Linked DNA regions of Homo sapiens. The protein of the gene in region 1 interacts with the protein of each later gene in a pairwise test. Each region holds a gene or a part of one and is shown in the gene's direction. Other genes may lie near its edges.

Region 1 (7,186 bases):
TGGGAGGTTGAGGCAGGAGAATTGCTTGAACCTGGGAGGCAGAGGTTGCAGTGAACCGAGATTGCGCCACTGCACTCCAGCCTAGACAACAGAGTGAGACTCCATCTCAGAAAAAAAAAAAAAGAAATGGTATTGCTGAAAGGTATGCCTTCACTATTATTCTTAACCCATTTGTCCTTATTAACTCTAACAGAGGTTTCCTAGGTTATTATATAGATTTTCATAGATAAATACTTTTCCAGGTGGTTAAGAAAAGACCAATATTTGCAATAAAAAAAGATTTGGATGCTGATAACCACTGTAAATGAGTGAAGTGATATCTAATAGCATAAATACAATTATATGCCAGCCCCACCCCCCCCCCCAAAAAAATAGAGAGTTTTAGAGGAAGAAAAAGCAAAATAAAATTTTTTTTTTTGCAGTAGAATTACAGAAGCATTGTTTTTAGGCTGTAGTAAGGCTCTTATTGGAACGAAATGAGGGGAAATTAGGCAGGAATCTTTGCCTTGTACTTGGCTTTCAAAAGGAAAGGGTTATTATATTAAAGTAACACGAGTATTAGCAAAATAAAACTCATTTTCTTAAATCAGTAAAGAATTAAAAAGTTTGGGCCAGGCATGGTGACTCAAACCTGTAACCCCAGCACTTTGGGAGGCCAAGGTGGGAGGATTGTTTGAGCCCAGGAGTTCAAGACCAGCCTGGGCAACATAGCAAGACCCCATCTCTTCAAAAATTTTTTTAATTAGCCAGGTGTGGTGGTGCACGCCGGTCCCAGCTACTTGAGAAGCTGAGGCAGGAGGATCGCTTGAGCCCAGGAGGTTGAGGCTCACACATCACTGCAGTCCAACCTGGTGACAGCAGAACCCTGTCTCAAAAACAAACAAACAAAAAGTTGCAATCCAATCTAGAGGTAATTGAAAACCTCCCAAATAGGTGAAAGAAGTCTAACCTAGTATTTCTCAAATGTTAATGTGCATACAAACTATATATTTGTGTGTCTATATATATGTGTAACATTATATAGGGATAAATATATATTTGTATGCATATATATATACTAGGTCATTATATATATATATATATTTCTTCAAGATTGAATTGGCTTTTATTAGTGATTGATTAATCAGGAAGCATTTCATCTGTGAAATAGAAAGATGCTCTAATGAGCTAAACAGAGAAAAGGAACAAAACTCAGATTAGTTGTTTCAAAGTTATTTTCCTTATAGGACTAAAGCAGAAGGGACTTACCAGTTCAAATTGAGTGGTCCTCTTATGATTGATTGCTGTGAATCTCCTGTTTTTTGGAAAACTGGCCCATTTTCAAGTTCAGTTTGATTTTGTGGCATCTAGCATAAGTGATTACATTCTGCTTTGATCTGGTGTCTTGGGGCTTAGTGCGGGAGCTTAGTCCAAAACAGTGGCCTCCCATAAATTTTAAAAATATATTTCTTAGGCCAGGTGCAGTGGCTTATACCTGTAATCCCAGCACTTTGGGAGGCTGAGCTTGAGGCAAGCTAAGCCCAGGAGTTTGAGACCAGCCTGGTCAACATAGGGAGACCTCATCTCTATAAATAATCAAAAAAAATTAGCTGGGTGTGCTGGTACATGCCTGTAGTCCCAGCTACCTAGGAGGCTGAGGTGGGAGGATCACTGGAGCCCAGGAGGTTGAGGATGCAGTGAGCCATGAGAGTGCCCCTACGTTCCAGCCTGGGCCACGGTGTGAGACCCTGTCGCCCCTCACCTCAGAGGTTTAAAAACCAGTGTTACATAAAAACAACCAAAGGTAACTAATGATTTTAGTCTTACCAGTAAGAGTGCTGTACTCTTCTTTAACCTTATTACAGATCTAGAAAAAATTAGGTTACAGAGCGATCTGAGTGTGGGGTAATTTCTCATTTTGCTTTTTTATCAGAATGTGGAGAGTAAAGGAATGAGGGACCAGCGATTAGATCTTCAGAGAAGAGCAGCAGAAACCAGTGATGATGACCTCATCCCATTTGGAGACCGACCAACAGTGTCTCGGTTTGGTGCCATCTCACGAACTTCCAAAACTATATATCAGGGTGCTGGTCCAATGCAGGCTATGGCACCTCAGGGAGCTCCTACAAAATCTATTAACATTTCAGGTAAGAATCTCAGAGGTAAGCTGACCTAAAGGGTTCATAATCTTGACTTTCAGCATTACCCCTGCTCTCCATTTACTATCAGTGTTTTTAGTAATCTTGCAAGGCAGTAATTTTCAAACTTTCCATGGAATCATCCCTGTAAGAAAGGTAATATAACCCAGAGAATTTTAGGTATATAAACTGAAATTAAATGTCTATATGTGAAGCTTTCCTAATGTTTCTTCCCCACTCCACCCCCACCCCAAATAGCTTAATTGTTATTTGGGGGAATAACATTCTCATTATACAGTAATTTGGAAGAAAAACTACAAAGACTGAAAGTTCATTGGGGAAGAAACAAACATATATCAGCACCCAGCATCATGCTGCCTGATATTTAGAAAAACAAAGTTAAAGAATTTTAAAAATCTGGACATTTAGGGTAGATACCAGATACCTGTGTATGCAATACGCTGATGTCTTTCAGATTATGAATACCTTAAAAGAAGAATCAAATCTGTGAATTATACCATAATAAATCATTCTCTTACAGATTATAGTCCATATGGAACCCACGGTGGCTGGGGAGCTTCTCCATATTCACCTCATCAAAACATACCTTCTCAGGGACACTTCAGTGAGAGGTATGAGTCATTCTTTTTACTTGAACAAACATGTAGAAACCTTTAAAATTAGGCAACTTCTTTTTGTTTTTCTGGTCAGTAATATGTTAACAAAATGAAATGTTAAAATTTGATTCACACTTTCTTTCTAACCAAAGGGAGAGAATATCTATGTCAGAAGTGGCCAGTCATGGAAAACCCCTTCCATCTGCTGAGAGAGAACAGCTACGACTAGAATTGCAGCAATTGAACCATCAGATTAGCCAGCAGACCCAGCTACGTGGACTAGAGGTACCAGCCTAGAGAGCCATTTTATTCCAATTTTTGAAGGGTTCTCAGAGATTTTAAATAGGAACTTTTGAGGCACTGTGAACAAAAAACTTTAAGGTCTATTTCTTAGGAGTTAGTATAGGTTTCTATTCTTCAAAGAATTCAATACTGGATTTAGCTCTGGGACAACAGAAAACGTAAAATTTCTGCTACCTAAAAATAGAAAACAGATTACGTAAAATTTCCCAACAGGAGCTTATATTCCCTGATGGCACATTTAAGGTTTTTTTTGTTTGTTTGTTTGTTTGTTTGTTTTGGTTTTCTTTTTTTGAGACAGTATTGCTCTGTTGCCCAGGCTGGAGTGAGGTGGCGTGATCTCAACTCACTGCAACCTCCACCTCCTGGGTTCATGCAATTCTCCTGCCTCAGCCTCCTGAGTGGTTGGGGTTATAGATGTACACCACCATACTCAGCGAATTTTTTGTATTTTTAGTAGAGATAGGGTTTCACCCCTGTAATCCCAGCACTTTGGGAGGCCGAGGCAAGTGGATCACAAGATCAGGAGTTTGAGAACAGTCTGGCCAACATAGTGAAACCCCGTGTCTACTAAAAATACAAAAAATTAGCCGGGCATGGTGGTGTGCACCTGTAATCCCAGCTAATCAGGAGGCTGAGGCAGGAGAATCGTGTGAACCCAGGAAGCAGAGGTTGCAGTGAGCCAAGATTGCGCCATTGCACTCCAGCCCAGGCTACAGTGTGAGACTCCGTCTCAAAAAAAAAAACAGAACTTTGACTTAAAAAGTAAAACATAGTTCCGGTGTAATAAGAATAATAACACTTTTCATTTACGTAGTTCTGTACCATTTAAAAATCACTACCACTTATCTTATTTGACCCTTAGAATATCCCTGATATTTTAGGCAGGTGGTATTGTCCTCCTTTTTTGATTGAAGTATATGAGTTTCTCAGAAGTTGAAACACGAACCCAAGTCTTCATACTCCAGATTCAGTGTTCTTTCCATCATGCTGCCTGACACTTAGAAAAACAAAACTAAAGAATTTTTAAAATCTGGCTGGACGTGGTGGTTCATGCTTGTAATCCCAGCACTTTGGGAGGCCAGAGCAGATGGATTGCTTGAGCTCAGGAGTTTGAGACCAGCCTGGGCAACATGGCAAAATCCCTTCACTACAAAAAGTGCAAAAATTGGCCAGGCATGGTAGTGCACGCCTGTAGTCTCAGCTACTCAGGAGGCTGAAGGCAGGAGGATCACCTGAGCCCAGGGAGGTTGAGGCTGCAGTGAGCCCTGATGGTGCCACTGCACTCCAGCCTGAGTGACAGAGTGAGACTCTGTCTCAAAAAAAAAAAAAAAAGGAATTTTTAAAATCTTTTAAGTGCCACATAAGGAAGACTAGGTTTTGTTTATACATCATCCTTTACGTTGGAACATATTCTTTGAATATGGAAAACTGAAGACATTCTAATGATAAATATATTGTCCTTTCTGGAGGAAAAAATGGTACTGTTAGAACATTAGTCTGTCTTTCTACCATAATCTTTAATAATAAGTAAGCCATCACTTTAGGGGGGAAAAAAAGTTATAAGACAGACTTTCTTAGTAGACTTTCTTTTTAGGAAGACCAGTAGGAGATTGTTTTTGGAACATATAGCTGGCTTGTGCCCCTATGTACGCAATTAGATTTAGGAATTTTAAAAATCTATGTAATACTTAGATTTTGTCTGCTTTCGCCATTGCTTATTTACATTGATTCAGAACGTCTTGCCGATTCCTGTCATAGAAACAGAATGCCATGTTTGCTTATGGCAATCTTTCGTTCATTAACTTTTTAAAGATTCAGACCTTCAACCCAATAAGGCATTACTCCATATCTTCAAATGCATGGTTTTTTGTTTGTTTGTTTGTTTGTTTTATATACTTTAAGTTCTAGGGTACATGTGCACAACGTGCAGGTTTGTTACATGTGGTATACATGTGCCATGTTGGTGTGCTGCACCCATTAACTCGTCATTTACATTAGGTATATCTCCTAATGCTATCCCTCCGCTTTCCCCCCACCACATGCATGATTTTTTGTTTTAAAGTTTCCAGGAGCATTTTCTGTCCAAAAAGACTATCAGTATTATTTAGAAACTTGCCACATATTTAACTCAGTACAGTTAAAAGTCCTTGCCATTACTGAGGTTTCATTGAAATAAGTTATAGGATTTACTTCAGAGAAAATTACCATTAAAAACAGAGGGGGAAAGATGCACATCTGTAGTTGACTTGTTTTTCTTCCATTTCCTTTTTTTTTTTTTTTTTTGAGAGACAAAGTCTCACTCTGTTGCCCAGGCTGGAGTGCATGGAGTGCAGTGGCATGATCATAGCAGCTCGCTGTAATCTTAAACTCCTGGGCTCAAGTGATCCTCCCTAGTAGCTAGGACTACGGGCCCACACCACCATCCCAGGCTAATTTTTTGGTTTTTTTATTTTTTATTTTTTGTAGAGGCGAGGTCTTGATATATTGCCCAGGTGGATCTCAAATTCCTGGCCTCAAGTGATCCTCCCACCTCAGCTTCCCAAAGTGCTAGAATTAAAGGCACAAGCCACCATGCGTAGCCAACTTCTCTTTCAAATCAGAAAATACAAGGAGCAATTTATACATAAGATGAAATTACTGTTTACTAAATTTAAATGTCCCTATTTTGTTATTTTTTTGTTTGAATGGTACTCAAAGAGAACAGCACCTTACAGTTGCATTATTTTGTTGCAAATGGCTGGGTGATAAGCTACTCAAGGCTGTGGTCTGGAATTGAGCCTGGTTATTCTGTGCATGGTGTGAAGTGTGTTGAGTTTTCTGTGTGCTTGGCTTTATGCACTAGGCTGTTAGTAACAGGCTGGTGTTGCAGAGGGAGGCAAACACCCTGGCAGGCCAGTCACAGCCCCCACCACCGCCACCTCCAAAATGGCCTGGGATGATCTCAAGTGAGCAGTTGAGCTTGGAACTGCACCAGGTGGAAAGGGAAATCGGGAAGAGAACACGGGAACTGAGTATGGTGAGTGTTATGGTGGGGAAAGAGAGGGAAGGTGAAATGAAATCTTTCATGTGGCTCTAGAATTATCTAGAGGCACAGAATCATCACTTCAAGGCACTCTGATGAGTGGTTAATATTTAAAATAATTCTCATGCAGGTGGGCTACCTTCCGATTTTATCATTCCCTTCCTCATTCTCTTGGTTTGGGTGTGTTCTTTGTCTTATAATTCTTCGTTAACTTTTAGGGAAAACAAGGTTTTAATGCTTCTGTAATTTAAGAACTTAATGGAAGTCTTAAATTTCTGTTTAGCATACTGATTAGGGAAGCAAATAGGATGGTGTTTACTATTTTGCAATGACAACATGTTATATAAAGATGTATTCACCAAATAACATTCTAGTTTCATAGCCTTTATAATGATGACCTATTTTTGCTATGAGTGATATGCAATCTGCACATTGTTTCCTGTATCCATTATGTATGCTTAGGAAAAACTATATCCATTAATATGCTTAGGATTTGCTTCATAGTGCACAGACATTCATTTTAGTAAATTTTGAATCTTAGGGGCTTCCTCAGGTTGCATGATATGATTTTTTTTGTTGCTTAGTTTTCATAATCTTTCTTTTTTTTTTTGAGGCGGAGTCTCTGTCGCCCAGGCTGGAGTGCAGTGGTGCGATCTCGGCTCATTGCAAGCTCTGCCTCCCGGGTTCACGCCATTCTCCTACCTCAGCCTCCCAAGTAGCTGGGACTAGGCGCCTGCCACCTCGCCTGGCTAATTTTTTGTATTTTTAGTAGAGACGGGGTTTCACCGTGTTAGCCAGGATGGTCTCGATCTCCTGACCTCGTGATCCGCCCGCCTCAGCCTCCCAAAGTGCTGGGATTACAGGTGTGAGCCACCACGCCCAGCCAGTTTTCATAATCTTTCTAAGCAAATAAATTGAGCATGCAGGTTTTTTTTGCTTTCAGTAAGTATGTTAAAGATATTTATTGTACTTTGGTTTTCTTTTCTTTTTTTTTTTTTTTTTTTTTTGAGACTGAGTCTCTGTCACCCAGGGTGGAGGGCAGTGGCCCAACCTCAGCTCACTGCAACCTCCGCCTCCCATGTTCCAGTGATTCTCCTGCCTCAGTCTCCCGAGTAGCTGGGATTACA
Region 2 (7,000 bases), on another chromosome or scaffold:
AGCTACTTGGGGGGCTGAGCCCAGGAGGTCAAGGCTGCAGTGAGCCGAGATCATGCCACTGCACTCCAGCCTGGGTGACAAAGTAAGACCTTGTCTCAAAAAAAAGGAAAAAAAAATAAACCAGGACTTGATGATTTTGGAAAATTCTTAGCCTATCCAGATAGTGTGCTCCAGAGTATGGCTAGAAAACCTCTTGGTGAAGAGATTAGATATGTGACTCATGAATCCAATCAATCATCTCAGCAGAATCACTTCCAGCTTTGACTGAAAGGAACAGAAATGGGATGAAAAGAAGGAAGGTTGTTGGACTTCTGGGATCCTACTAGCAGAAGACAGACCAACAGAGCTAGTTGGCTGCAAGTTCACCTTCAAGAAAAGGACAGAATGACTCTTAAGGGTAGCTCAGAGACCAGCAAGGCCACCAAGGGCAACTCAGAGGCTGGTGGGGCTGTGGCTACCACCACAAGCCCAGACATCACAGGTCCAGATGATGGAGCTACTGTCTGTCTGCTTGGTTTCAGAGGGCAAGGCCACTGCCCCTGTGGGACACAGGGTGGGGCCCCCCTGGCTGGCTCAGAGAACAGAGCACCAGAGAATGAAGGCACAAATGATTATTTTTGGGTTTTGAAATCTAATGGATTCAGCCTGCTTGGTTGCAGACTTACTTTGGACTAGTAACTCCTTTATTCCTTTTATTTTCTCCCTTTTACAGTGGGACTTCTATGGTATGCCTATCCCACCATTTTATTTTGGAAGCAGTTTACTTGTTTTCCAGTGTCATAGGTCTGTAGATGGAGGAGAATTTTGTCCCAGTGTGGTCCATATTCAGAGTCTCACCCATATGTGATTCAGATGATGCTTAGATGAGATTTTGGGTTTAGAGTTGATGCTAGAATGTTAGGATGGAGTGAATGTGTTTTGTATATGGGAAGGACATGAATTTTGGGGGATCAGAGGGTAGGAGAATTGTGTCCACCAGAAAGATACGTTGAAATCCTAATCCCCAGTATCTGTCAACATGACCTTATTTGGAAACAGGGTTTTTGCAAATGTGAACAAGTTAAGATGAGGTTGTGCTGGATTAAGGCAGGCCCTAACCTAGTGAATGATGGGTGTCCTTCAAAGATGAGGGAAATTTAGATACAGTACGTACAGAGAAGGCTGTGTGAAGATGGAGGCAGAGATTGGAGTGATATGTCTGCAAGTGAGTGAACACCAAGCACTGGCAGCATCCACCAGAAGCTAGGAGAGAGGCATGGGACAGATTCTCCCATAGAAGCTCTGGAAGAACCAGCCCTGCTAACACCCACATTTTGGACTTCCAGCCTCCAGAACTGTGAAAGGATGAATTTTTGTTTTTTTAAAACACCTAATTTGTGGTAGTTGGTTATGGCAGCCCTAGGGAACTAATACACTATCTCTAAAAGTTTTTCTGTTAAGAAGGGTATAATAACTAATTAAAGGAGTGCCTTTCAACCTTCAAAAGAGTTTTTCAGCAACTGTTCTCAACTAATCTTCAATTATTTTGTTCTTTATTATTGTTCATGTTCGTATGTGGTATATGAAATTGGCTGTTACTAAAGTATAAGCCAATTTCACAATACAATACTAAAGTATTATATTTGTTTAGGGGAGCTTTTATTAATGCACTAAAAAATCTAAATACTTTTCTGCAATTTTTGAAATTGATTAAATCTTCACAGCACAATATTAGATTTTCAATGTGGATTTGTGGAGTTTTTTTTTTAAGAGTCAGGGTCTTGCACCATCGGCCAGGCTGGAGTGGAATGGCTTAACCACAGTTCACTGCAGCCTTGAACTCGTGGGCTCAGGTGATCTCCCGCCTCAGCCTCCCAAGTAGCAAGGACTATAGGCATGTGCCACCACACAGCTAATTTTTGTATTTTTTGGTAGAGACAGGTTCTCACTATGTTTCCCGGACTGGTCTCAGACTCCTGGGCTCAAGTGATCCTCCCACCTCAGCCTCCCAGAGTGTTGGGGTTGCAGACGTGAGCCACCCAGCCGTTTTAATAGCCTCTTGCAATAATTTTATTTTTCAATGCAGAATTCTCCCCAAAACCTAGAAGTAGAGTTTATATCAGTTTGTATTTATTACTCATAATTCAAATTGTGAGAAATTTCAACTGTGGATTCTTCTAGAAAAAAAAATTTATCATTATTTGAAATTTTTTTCATTATTTCAGTTATTAAAATATTAAAGTTGTTTACTATTTATTTAAGTTAAATTTAAATTATCCAGGTATATAGTTTTGAAGTAAACCCCATTTTTGGAATTTAGAATTTAACTGAAGACAGTTGAGGAGTGATATGTATATATATTACTTTTTCTTGAAATGACATTATTATAACAAAGATAATTTTTAAAGGAAAAATTTAATGCAACCTCAAAAATCCCTCATATTCACAACACCCTGATACAATAACTTTCTTTTTTACATTTCCAAATATATAAATATATACATGAGATACTCAGTTACCATGATTAATAATTATACACAATTCATTTTGTTAAGCATTAAATAGGTCATCTTTAAATAGTAGGCAGCTTCCTGAGAGTATTTTAAAATAAGCAAAAATTGGCTGTCATATTTTTCTAAAGTGAGATTGTTGGCTGTACAAATTCAAGTTCTTAAAATTATTGGGTTATTTTAACTTTTTACTTGTTTCTTTTTCTTTTTTCAGCACATAAATGCCCATCATGCTTATGAATCTCAGATCTCATCAATGGCAAAAGCCATGTCTCGATTAGAAGAAGAGCTGAGACATCAAGAAGATGAGAAAGCAACAGTATTAAATGACTTGTCATCTCTTAGAGAACTTTGCATTAAACTTGATTCAGGCAAAGATATTATGACCCAGCAATTGAATTCGAAAAACCTTGAGTTTGAGAGGGTAAGAAAGATAAATTGTCTTGGCACATTGTTTTATTGAGCCCTACTCTAATTATTTTACTTTAGTATTCACCACACCATGCATATACTTGTTTCCTTTTAGAGTAGTTACTTTTTTTTTTGTGATGGAGTTTTGCTCTGTCGCTTAGGCTGGTGGAGTTCAGTGGTGCGATCTCAACTCACCACAACTTCCGCCTCCTGGGTTCAACCAATTCTCCCTCAGGCATCTCAGGATGCCTCAGCATCCTGAGTAACTGGGATTGCAGGCATCTGCTAACACACCTGGCTAATTTTTGTATTTTTAGTAGAGATGGGGTTTCACCATGTTGGCCGGGCTGGTCTCAAACTCCCAACCTCACGTGATCTGCCTGCCTTGGCCTCCCAAAGTTCTGGGATACAGGCATGAGCTACTGCACCCAGCCTACAATAGTTACTTTTGACTACAGGATTTTGACAACCAGATTTGACTGCTTGATTCTTTGCAAGATTTCTCAGGCAAACGTAGTGATGAAAGTGGGTAATGTTTTGGAATAGATGGCTATCTAGGAGATTATGAATTTTCTGATTATAAATCAGCATATCCTAATACATTCTTTCTCTGTTTAAAAGTAAGACTTGAGGCCAGGTACGATAGCTTACACCCGTAATCCCAACACTTTGGGAAGTCGAGTCAGGCAGATTGCTTGAGCTCAGGAGTTTGAAACCAGCCTGGATAGCATGGCAAAACCCCGTCTCTACAAAAAATACAAAGAATTAGTCAGGCATGTGGCATGTGCCTATAGTCCCAGCTACTCGGGAGGCTGAGGCAGGGAAGGTTCACTTGAGCCCAGGATGTCGAGGCCGCAGTAAGCAGAGATTGTGCCACTGCACTCCAGCTTGGGCAACAGAGTGAGACCTTGTCTCAAAAAAAAAAAGTAAGACTTGAATGAAGGATTGAACAGTTCAGTGCTTCCGAAGTAGAATATTTTTCCCGATAAAAATCTCAAGGTGTTTAAATCTTAATTAAACAAGTCTATTTAGCTAGAATTTACCTTTCCCAGATGGAGGCATTACTTTAAATAACCTAGTGTTTGTTTTCAAACATGGATGTTTTCAATTTTCACTCATCTAGTAGTATCTTTATTTTCAGGTACTGAGAAACTATAATACTGGCTTGATTATGTAGTCAGAGTAAGCATATTCAACCAGAAGGGTCTCATTGCCCTTGTGGTTTTATCTTAATGACCGTCTCTTGATAAGGTACCATGACTAAAAATTATTTGAGGATTTGAGTAGATCCTATAGCCAAATAAGCCCATAGTAAAAATAGCAAAGATTATTTTGAAAATAAAGTGTCTTTCTTATACTTAAAGAAACAGTTCATAATCTTTAACCCATACCCAAAATGAAACAAGTGATAGGTGAATAGTTCCACAGAGCTATATTGTCAGATAAATAATTTTTTCAGAGTAAGTTTAAAATTGTACTGAAGTAATCTTACTTTGTTTTTCACGTAGGTTGTGGTGGAATTAGAAAATGTAAAGTCAGAGTCAGACCTACTGAAAAAACAACTTTCAAATGAGAGACATACAGTTAAAAACCTCGAATCATTGTTGGCTACAAACAGAGATAAAGAATTTCATTCTCACTTAACCTCCCACGAGAAGGATACAGAAATCCAGCTACTTAAGGAGAAGTTAACCCTTTCTGAAAGCAAATTGTAAGTGTCTTAAGTCAACTTATGCAAAGACAATTGCTTGTGAAGGATAGTTTTTTAATTTTTTTGAAGTGGAGGAAAGGTTAAGAGTATGAAAGATAGGCCAGGTGCAGTGGCTCACACCTGTAATCCCAGCACTTTGGGAGGCCAAGGCGGGTAGATTGCCTGAGCTCAGGAGTTTGAGACTAGCCTGGGCAAGATGGCGAAACCCCGTCTATACTAAAAATACAAAAAAAAAAAGCCAGGCGTGGTGGCACACACCTATAGTCCCAGCTACTCAGGAGGCTGAAGCGTGAGAATCACTTGAACCCAGGAGGTGGAGGTTGCAGTGAGCCGAGATTGCACCACTGCACTCCATCCTGGGCGACAGAGCGAGACGCTGTCCCAAAACCAAAATATTTGGCTTATACATCTGCTGCTTTTGGAAATTTAGGAGACTGACTCGGGAGAAACATCGTGTTGGGAGGTGCAGACCTGTATATCTTCACTACAGAGGTTGTACCGTGGGAGTAATGAGAAGAGAAAACGTTAGGAAAGCGCCTACAGTTGAGGAATGGACAGAGGAGTCAGTGAAGGAGAAAGTGTTCTCGGGAGAAGAAGAGGTGGCTGTGTCTTATGCTGTAGATTAGGAAAAAGGACTCTAAAAAGGCTATGAGATTTGACCCACATACATGTATTGATTACTTTGGGAGAGACTGATTATGTCATATTTTTAGAATAGAAGGATTTAGACATATTTGTAGGAAGAGGGAAAGAAACCCAGAGTAGAGTACACATGGAAGAATGAGCTTTTGAAAGGTATTAAAAATATTAATATTTCTCTTTCCAAGGCAAGAGTCAAGAAAGAGCCAATGAAGACACTTTACATCTTGGTGTTACCATTTATGTCTCGTTCAAATTTGTATCCCTAGCATTGCTTTAGTGCTTAGCACATAATAGATGTTCAGTACATGTTTCATAAATAAACTAAATGAATGAAAAAGAAAATGTGATAAAAGCTCTAGAAGTTTAGAGAATTCTTGTTGAAAGGTCTTGATCTTCTCTTTATTAATTTAAAAAACCCACAGCACCTGACTCTACAAAACGGAACGTTTATTTCTTGATTTTTTAATTTGTTTTTAAGAACTAGTCAAAGCCGGGAAAACACCATGCTTCGAGCTAAAGTGGCACAGTTACAAACAGATTATGATGCTCTGAAAAGGCAGATCTCAACTGAAAGATACGAACGGTAAGACAAATTTTTTTTACATTTGACAATGTTTTTATGTGTTCTCTATTGTACTTCAGAAAGTATTTAATATGGCTTTACAAATAACAAACTTTTTAAAAAGCTAATACATAAAGTACATTTCTTTGGTAATTCTTCCTTTTAAAAAAGGCAACAAGTGTTGGGGAAGATAATAGCTCTACAGTAACTAAAATAGCAAGTATTACATAGCGGATGCTATATAAATATTTATTGAATAAAATTGTTTAATAATCTGAAAAATAAGGTAAAATAGGAAGTATTGGATAAATATTTCCTATAGCATTCCGCAGGACAAAATTAGAATCCAAAAGTATTTCAAAGAGTATAGAGAAGCAACAACAATCCCTATAAGAGCTCCAAAATGTATGGTTCAAGTAGGATGTTCCACATACAAATCATAATAAAGGTAATGATTTGAAGATAGTAACAGCAGTTAACAAATGTGGACCAGACACTATATAAGTGTCTGATGAATCCCACCAACAATCTATTATTATGCCTACCTTATAGGAAACTGAGATCACATAAATAGTAAGTGGTAGGAAACCAAACAGATTTTAATTCTAAAACCTGTACCCTTAACCTCTTCAATGTATTCCCTACAGCTTGGTAATTTTCATATTCACTCATATTTTGGTTCATTTGCTTTACGTTGAAAAATTTAATCCCCAGGTGTTACTAACCCGGATTGAGACCTGCTTTAAATCGAAGTCTAACTTGAAAATCAGTTGCCAAGTTACTTGTCTTCCATTACTCTTTCCTACTATATTAATACCATAGACATCTGCATTCCTGAGATTTCATTCTCAATTAGTGGCCAAATTGCTTGTTAGATCAGTTTTTGAGTTATTCTTACCTATTTACGTCAAAACTTTGTAGTGATGTGCTATTTGAAGTATAGTGACAATTTGCTATGAAATCAATATTTACGATTTCATAAAGGCCTGGCTTGGTGGCTCATGCCTGCAATCCCAGCACTTTGGGAGGCCAAGGCAGGTGGATTTACTTGAGCCCACGAGTTTGAAATCAGCGTGAGCAACATGGCAAAACACCATCTCTACAAAAAAATTTTTGAAAATTAGCTGGGGCATGGTGATGGGTGCCTGTAGTCCCAGCTACTCAGGAAGCCGAAGTGGGAGGATT

Evidence for each region. The genes of interacting proteins can lie anywhere in the genome.
Region 2: the proteins of RC3H1 (region 1) and CEP135 interact in binary tests that used the Homo sapiens proteins (3 or more experiments, as listed by UniProt).

What each region holds. Positions count from the first base shown.
Region 1 is NC_000001.11:173,942,309-173,949,494, reverse strand, and holds part of RC3H1 (roquin-1), read left to right. Parts: intron 1-1,912; coding exon 1,913-2,126; intron 2,127-2,658; coding exon 2,659-2,749; intron 2,750-2,886; coding exon 2,887-3,019; intron 3,020-5,879; coding exon 5,880-6,053; intron 6,054-7,186. UniProt on the Homo sapiens protein: Post-transcriptional repressor of mRNAs containing a conserved stem loop motif, called constitutive decay element (CDE), which is often located in the 3'-UTR, as in HMGXB3, ICOS, IER3, NFKBID, NFKBIZ, PPP1R10, TNF, TNFRSF4 and in many more mRNAs.
Region 2 is NC_000004.12:56,014,945-56,021,944, forward strand, and holds part of CEP135 (centrosomal protein of 135 kDa), read left to right. Parts: intron 1-2,703; coding exon 2,704-2,913; intron 2,914-4,408; coding exon 4,409-4,611; intron 4,612-5,731; coding exon 5,732-5,836; intron 5,837-7,000. UniProt on the Homo sapiens protein: Centrosomal microtubule-binding protein involved in centriole biogenesis. Acts as a scaffolding protein during early centriole biogenesis.